2 separate regions of the Homo sapiens genome follow, and region 2 is linked to region 1. The links come from fine-mapping of genetic effects on gene expression. Tissue or cell type: whole blood. Region 1 holds a variant in brackets; the other region holds the start of a gene. Each region is shown on its reference strand, or each on the opposite one.

Region 1 (2,500 bases):
CTGTGTGTCTTCTGCTTGACCTTGAGCTCACTGGCTGTCCAGAGCCTCAGTTTTTTCACCCATATGATAGGATGGTGGCAGACATTACTCAAGGGGATGCTGCCAGGCGAAACAAGATGGTGCTTGTCAGCTGCTTAGACGCTGCCGTGGAGGAAGCACCCAGCAAGCATCTGCTGCCGTTTTGATGATTTCCACTCCTGCTGGCGACTGCTTTAAAGGACAGCCCTAGCCTGCAGAGGTGTGATGGGGATCTACTGTGGGAGAAGGGGGGCTTCCTGGAGGAGGGGCTCCTGGACTGGGCTTCACAGGACAGAAAGCATTGCTGGCAGAGGCTGTCCTGAGCTGAGGCTCTGAAGAGTGGGGGGCAGAGAATATTCAAGAAATACTGGGAACAGCAGCAGCAGGAAGAAGTGGTAGTGGGTGGGCCCTGGGGCCAGCAGCCCTGCCTTCTTTTCTTTCTGGGGCCCCTCTGACCAGCGGCTGATCTTTGCTACCTTAAATCAGGGACTTTCAAAAGGAAGGGGCCTCAGTGAGCAGACTGTGCAGAGGGGAAACTGAGGCGTAGCAGGACTGGGCCCAAGGTGACGGAGTGGGTTAGAGCCAGAGCTCCCCACGCAGCTCTTGCTCTGGGTAACCGAATGAAAGAGGCTTTTTCTGAAGACCATCTTCTTTCCTCAGGCACTGGAACTTCTGTCCTATTCCCAGTGTGAGAGCCCTGGCCCTGTGGCTCTGAGACTCTCTGGCGCCCTGGCCACGTGGGGCCGCCTTGGCTCCCCTCTCCCCTCCCTGGCAGTGGCTCCAGCGTTCCACAGTAACAAGGAAGCTATTTCCGAAGTGCTGTTGGACTCCCCTCCTCCGGGAAGTCTGCCCTACGGAGGGCAAGGGAGCATGTGGTGGGAGCGTGGGTTCCGGGGTCAGATTACCTGACCCACAGCCTGGGTCCCGGAACAGGCGCTCAGCGTCGGTCTCATGGTGAAGCCTCGGTGGCCCCGTCTAAACAATGGGAACAAAAGGGAAAGTGTCAGGAAAAGAGCCCTGGGCTTGGAGTCGGGGGATCCGGGTGTGAATCCTGCCTTGCTGCTCAGGCTCTGTGTTCCTCACACGACTTCAGCATCCTGGCCTCCACACCCCGGTCTCCAGCATGGGGATGATAGTTCTGCTTCCTTTGGGCATGAGCAGAGATAAAAGCGATGGTCATGATGGTGGTGACCCACGTGACTGGAAAGTGTCCACACCTTAGGCCAGCACCTCAACCCACAAAGACAGT[G/A]TGATGGGGACACCGCAGCTCGGGGTGGGGGAAAGGAGTGTGACTTGAGTGAGGCCACCAGACTGCAAGTGACAGGACCCGTCCTCGAACCCAGGCTGGCTGTCAACCCCGCCCTCTTCCGCCAGGCCGCAGGAGTAACTGTAAACACTCTTTGTACATGGTGTGACTCAGAAACAGGGGACTTTATTCTCCTGTGACGAAAGTAACAAGGCCTGAGGTTTTGCACCAGCCCTATTGGCTCCCTTCAAGCTTGTGGCTGACTAAAACACCCAGATCCTTTGCACTCAGGCTGTTGTCGGATCAGTCTGTGGTCCCCACGTCCACCCGGCAGGCTTCATGCCTGTTAAGATTCTTCTGCTCACTTGTCCCCCAGCTCATCCACATCTCCCTGCCATTTCCAGTGGCCTCAGGAGCAAGGACAACATTTCCTCCAAGGCCTGTTAGGGCTGAGGACTCGGTCTGGAATTGGAAGCTCTGGCCGTACTGGGCCTGCCCTCCTCAGGGTAGCAGTCAGGTGCTTTCCACAAGGCATCTCCTCCCCATCCGCTCCAGGCCCCACCCATCCCACTTGCCTCGTTCACGTGACTTGCCCCATCCCCATGGGCATCTGAGTTTGCAGCCCCAGCTCCAGCTAAACTCGCCCCCAGCCCATGTTTTCCCCTTTGTTGCCAAGGGCCCTGGGAGGCAGCAGTGGGGGCCTGGCCAGAGACCAAATGGTCTTATTCCTGCCACCAAGTGTCCCATGGATTCCTGGTCTGGGGCCTCATTGGAGGAGAAGGTGGGGCTCCCTGGTTCTTGGTGACTGGCTGAGCCCCTGTGGCTCCCAGGCCCCCTGCTTTCTTTCTGAGGCTCCCAGATACCTGTTTGAGCTTCCAACAGGGATGCGTAGGGAGCTTGGGGGCCTACAAGTACCAGAATCCATTGCGTTCCCATTCTGAAAATCAGAAATCAGGCCCATGCGAGGCCTCGGGCTCTGTCCCCTCATGCCCTACAGTGGTCGACAGGCTTTTCCCACTTTTCGAGTCCCCAGCAATCACTTGTTCAGGCCCCAAGAAGCGCAGTGAGTTCTGTTTTACCTCCCACCTACATCTTGCCTCTTCTCCCTCTGCCAAACTAGAAAACGCACATGTCATTCTAGACCCAAGGCCTTAGGCAAACCTTCTCCTCCCCCTTACCCCCTCCCACATTTTTTTTTTTTTTTTTTTTTGAGATGGAATCTTGCTCTGTCACCTA
Region 2 (3,006 bases), not on the chromosome of region 1:
AAATCCTCTGCTCTGTGAACAGGGGTCTGGGGGAAGCTGAGGAGGAAAGACTTAGCGGCGCAGAGGGAAGGAGGGCAGAGCCAGCCTCTACCTGTGTCACCTGGGACAGCTTTCTTCACCCTCTGGAATTCAGTTGCCCTGTGGGTGCAGTAGTGGGAGCAGGGGTGGTAAGCCCACTCTATATGCCCTTCTAAAATAATGCCCTTTGCCATCTGAGGGCTAGGAGTCTGTAACTGGAGATGTCTTCTGATCTGAGAAGCTGAGGGTGGAAGAAGAGACCCAGCTGGGGGAACTGGAGGAGTCTTGGCAGACCCTGGTAGGAAAGGAGAGCCAGAGAATGGAAATGGAACAAAACGGATACTTGAAAGTATCTTGTTGAGGCTGGGTGCGGTGGCTCAAGCCTGTAATCCCAGCACTTTGGGAGGCTGAGGTGGGTGGATCATGAAGTCAGGGGTTTGAGACCAGCCTGGCCAACATAGTGAAACCCGGTCTCTACAAAAAATACAAAAATAGCCAGGTGTGGTGGTGTGCGCCTGTAATCCCAGCTACTTGGGAGTCTGAGGCAGGAGAGTCACTTGAACCTGGGAGGCGGAGGTTGCAGTGAGCCTAGACTGCGCCATTGCACTCCAGCCTGGGAGACAGAGCAAGACTCCATCTCAAAAAAAAAAAAAAAAAAAAAAAGAAAGTATCTTGTTGAGTGACTGAATGAAAGAGCCACAGGGGGAACCTAGGAAGAAAGCAGGGCAGGGGGTTCATCTACACTGGAATAGGGGTCTCGGGTGGGGGTCAGATGACTTGTGTCTCTTCCATCATGTGTCTCATGAGACCTAGTTCTGCCCCAGCTCTGCCATTGCTGCGTAAGCTTGGGAAGCTTATTTTGCTCCTCTGGGCCTCAGTGTCCCCATCTATAAAATGGGGCAAATAATCCTCTCCTTGCACCCCAGGGGCTTTGAGACGTGAAAAGGAATGTATCTGTCAATATCCAGAGATATCCAATCTGTGCTGGATGACCTTGACCAAATCACATTCCCTCTCTGTGCCAATTCACCCCTGGGCCTTGGTTTGTCCTTCTGAAAAACGGCTGATCATCTTGGAGGATCTTTCCATCTCCTCCATGTCACCTCTTCTCAGCAGTGCTCTCTGATTCTCTCAGGCTTCCGTTAGGGGTCCTTCTAAATGCACTCTCAGCCTCCTGTCTGCCGACCGGGCACCTGCTTGCCCAATGAATATCTTGCTCACTAGCCTGGTGCTTCTGAGGTCAGGACCACGTCTTGCTACTGTCCCCTGCACCCAGTACAGTGTTAGAATGTAGTAAATGCTCAGTATGCTTGTTCAATGAATGAAGGTTGACTGAATCAACCACAGAGATGATCAGAGTCTCCTTTACAGATGGGGAAACTGAGGCACTGAGAAATGATCTCCCTGGGTGCCATGGCAAGGGGAGGCCGCCACCCGACATGGGCATCGGGAAAGTGGGGCCGAGGCCACTCTTTGACAAAAGTGACTCAGCAGCTGGCGGCTGGCGTGGGCTGTGGAATTTCTAAGCATCCCCTCACATCCTGAGCGAACGGGCGATGGGAGGGAGTAAGCAGAGTGAAAAGAAGAAAAACAAGAAACTTGGGGGAAAAGAAAGAGAGAGGGGGAAAAAAACTGAAATTGAAAACAGACGCACGCGTCCACCCTCCCTGCCCCGCCGCCCCCCCTTCTCCCAGCTGGGCCAATCAGAAGCCACCCTGCAGCCTTTCCCCCAAAGTGGCGGGGGAAGTGGGGGGGCATGGAAGCCCATAGTGGTGTGAGCTCCTGAGGCTGCCAGCAGCCAGCAGTGACTGCCCGCCCTATCTGGGACCCAGGATCGCTCTGTGAGCAACTTGGAGCCAGAGAGGAGATCAACAAGGAGGAGGAGAGAGCCGGCCCCTCAGCCCTGCTGCCCAGCAGCAGCCTGTGCTCGCCCTGCCCAACGCAGACAGCCAGACCCAGGGCGGCCCCTCTGGCGGCTCTGCTCCTCCCGAAGGATGCTTGGGGAGTGAGGCGAAGCTGGGCCGCTCCTCTCCCCTACAGCAGCCCCCTTCCTCCATCCCTCTGTTCTCCTGAGCCTTCAGGAGCCTGCACCAGTCCTGCCTGTCCTTCTACTCAGCTGTTACCCACTCTGGGACCAGCAGTCTTTCTGATAACTGGGAGAGGGCAGTAAGGAGGACTTCCTGGAGGGGGTGACTGTCCAGAGCCTGGAACTGTGCCCACACCAGAAGCCATCAGCAGCAAGGTAAGTGCTGGAAAAAGTGGGAACCCCAGCCCCATGCCCTGTCCCTTTGCCCTAACCTGCATCTCTTCGAGTAGGTAAAAAAAAAAAAAAAAAAAAAAAGGGAAGATATTTTTAACAAAACAAGATGAGAGGAGGCTGGGAGACTGTGGGTGATGTCAGGGATGGAGGAGCCAGTTTTCTCCTTTCCCCTGCTCTGGGGTGAGTGGCCTCCACCTCATCATCCCTGCTGCTCCTGCCTTCATCAAACAATCCTCAGGGGTTTCTGGGTGCTGACTGGGGGCCTCCAAAGCACAGCACAGTCAATGGGGAGTGGGGAGAGCTGGGAAGAGCGGGAGAGGGGAATTGGGAGAAGGTAGGCAGGGTACACAGAAAGCAGGGGACTGGGGACCTCAGGACCATAGCCGCTGTTCCTTGGCCCAAGCCTTGTTTCTAAGAATCAGTCTGGCTTTAGGCCAGTCAGCCGCCAGGCAACCTCTGGGGATTTAAATGGATTTGCAAATTTTCTAGATTCTTAAGATATCCTTCTAAACCCCCAGCAGCTAGAAAAGTTTGAGGGCTAGGAAAGTTCGAGGGTGATGGGCGGCCATGGCAACCCCCTAGCGGTCATGCTGCTGGGTCTGGGGGCTGGGACCTGGCTGTCAGATCTGGGGGCTCCTCTGTGAAGAAGGGGTCAGCCACTGGGCCATTTCCTTTGGTCCCAGGCAGCTGCTCAGGCCTCCTCGTTGTCTCCCTCCTTCTGGACTCTA

What was found.
Region 2: it holds the start of PDGFRB, and the variant in region 1 is fine-mapped to the expression of PDGFRB in whole blood (TOPMed, PIP 0.91).

What each region holds. Positions count from the first base shown.
Region 1 is chr1:24,910,263-24,912,762 of GRCh38, reverse strand. All of the region lies in intron 3 of RUNX3 (RUNX family transcription factor 3), which reads left to right. Among named protein-coding and RNA genes, the nearest start is that of MIR6731, 7.9 kb to the left of the region's middle. The variant G/A (reference allele first, on the strand shown) is at 1,268.
Region 2 is chr5:150,154,651-150,157,656 of GRCh38, reverse strand. PDGFRB (platelet derived growth factor receptor beta) reads left to right here and starts at 1,812. Exons shown (of 23, transcript NM_002609.4): 1 at 1,812-2,260.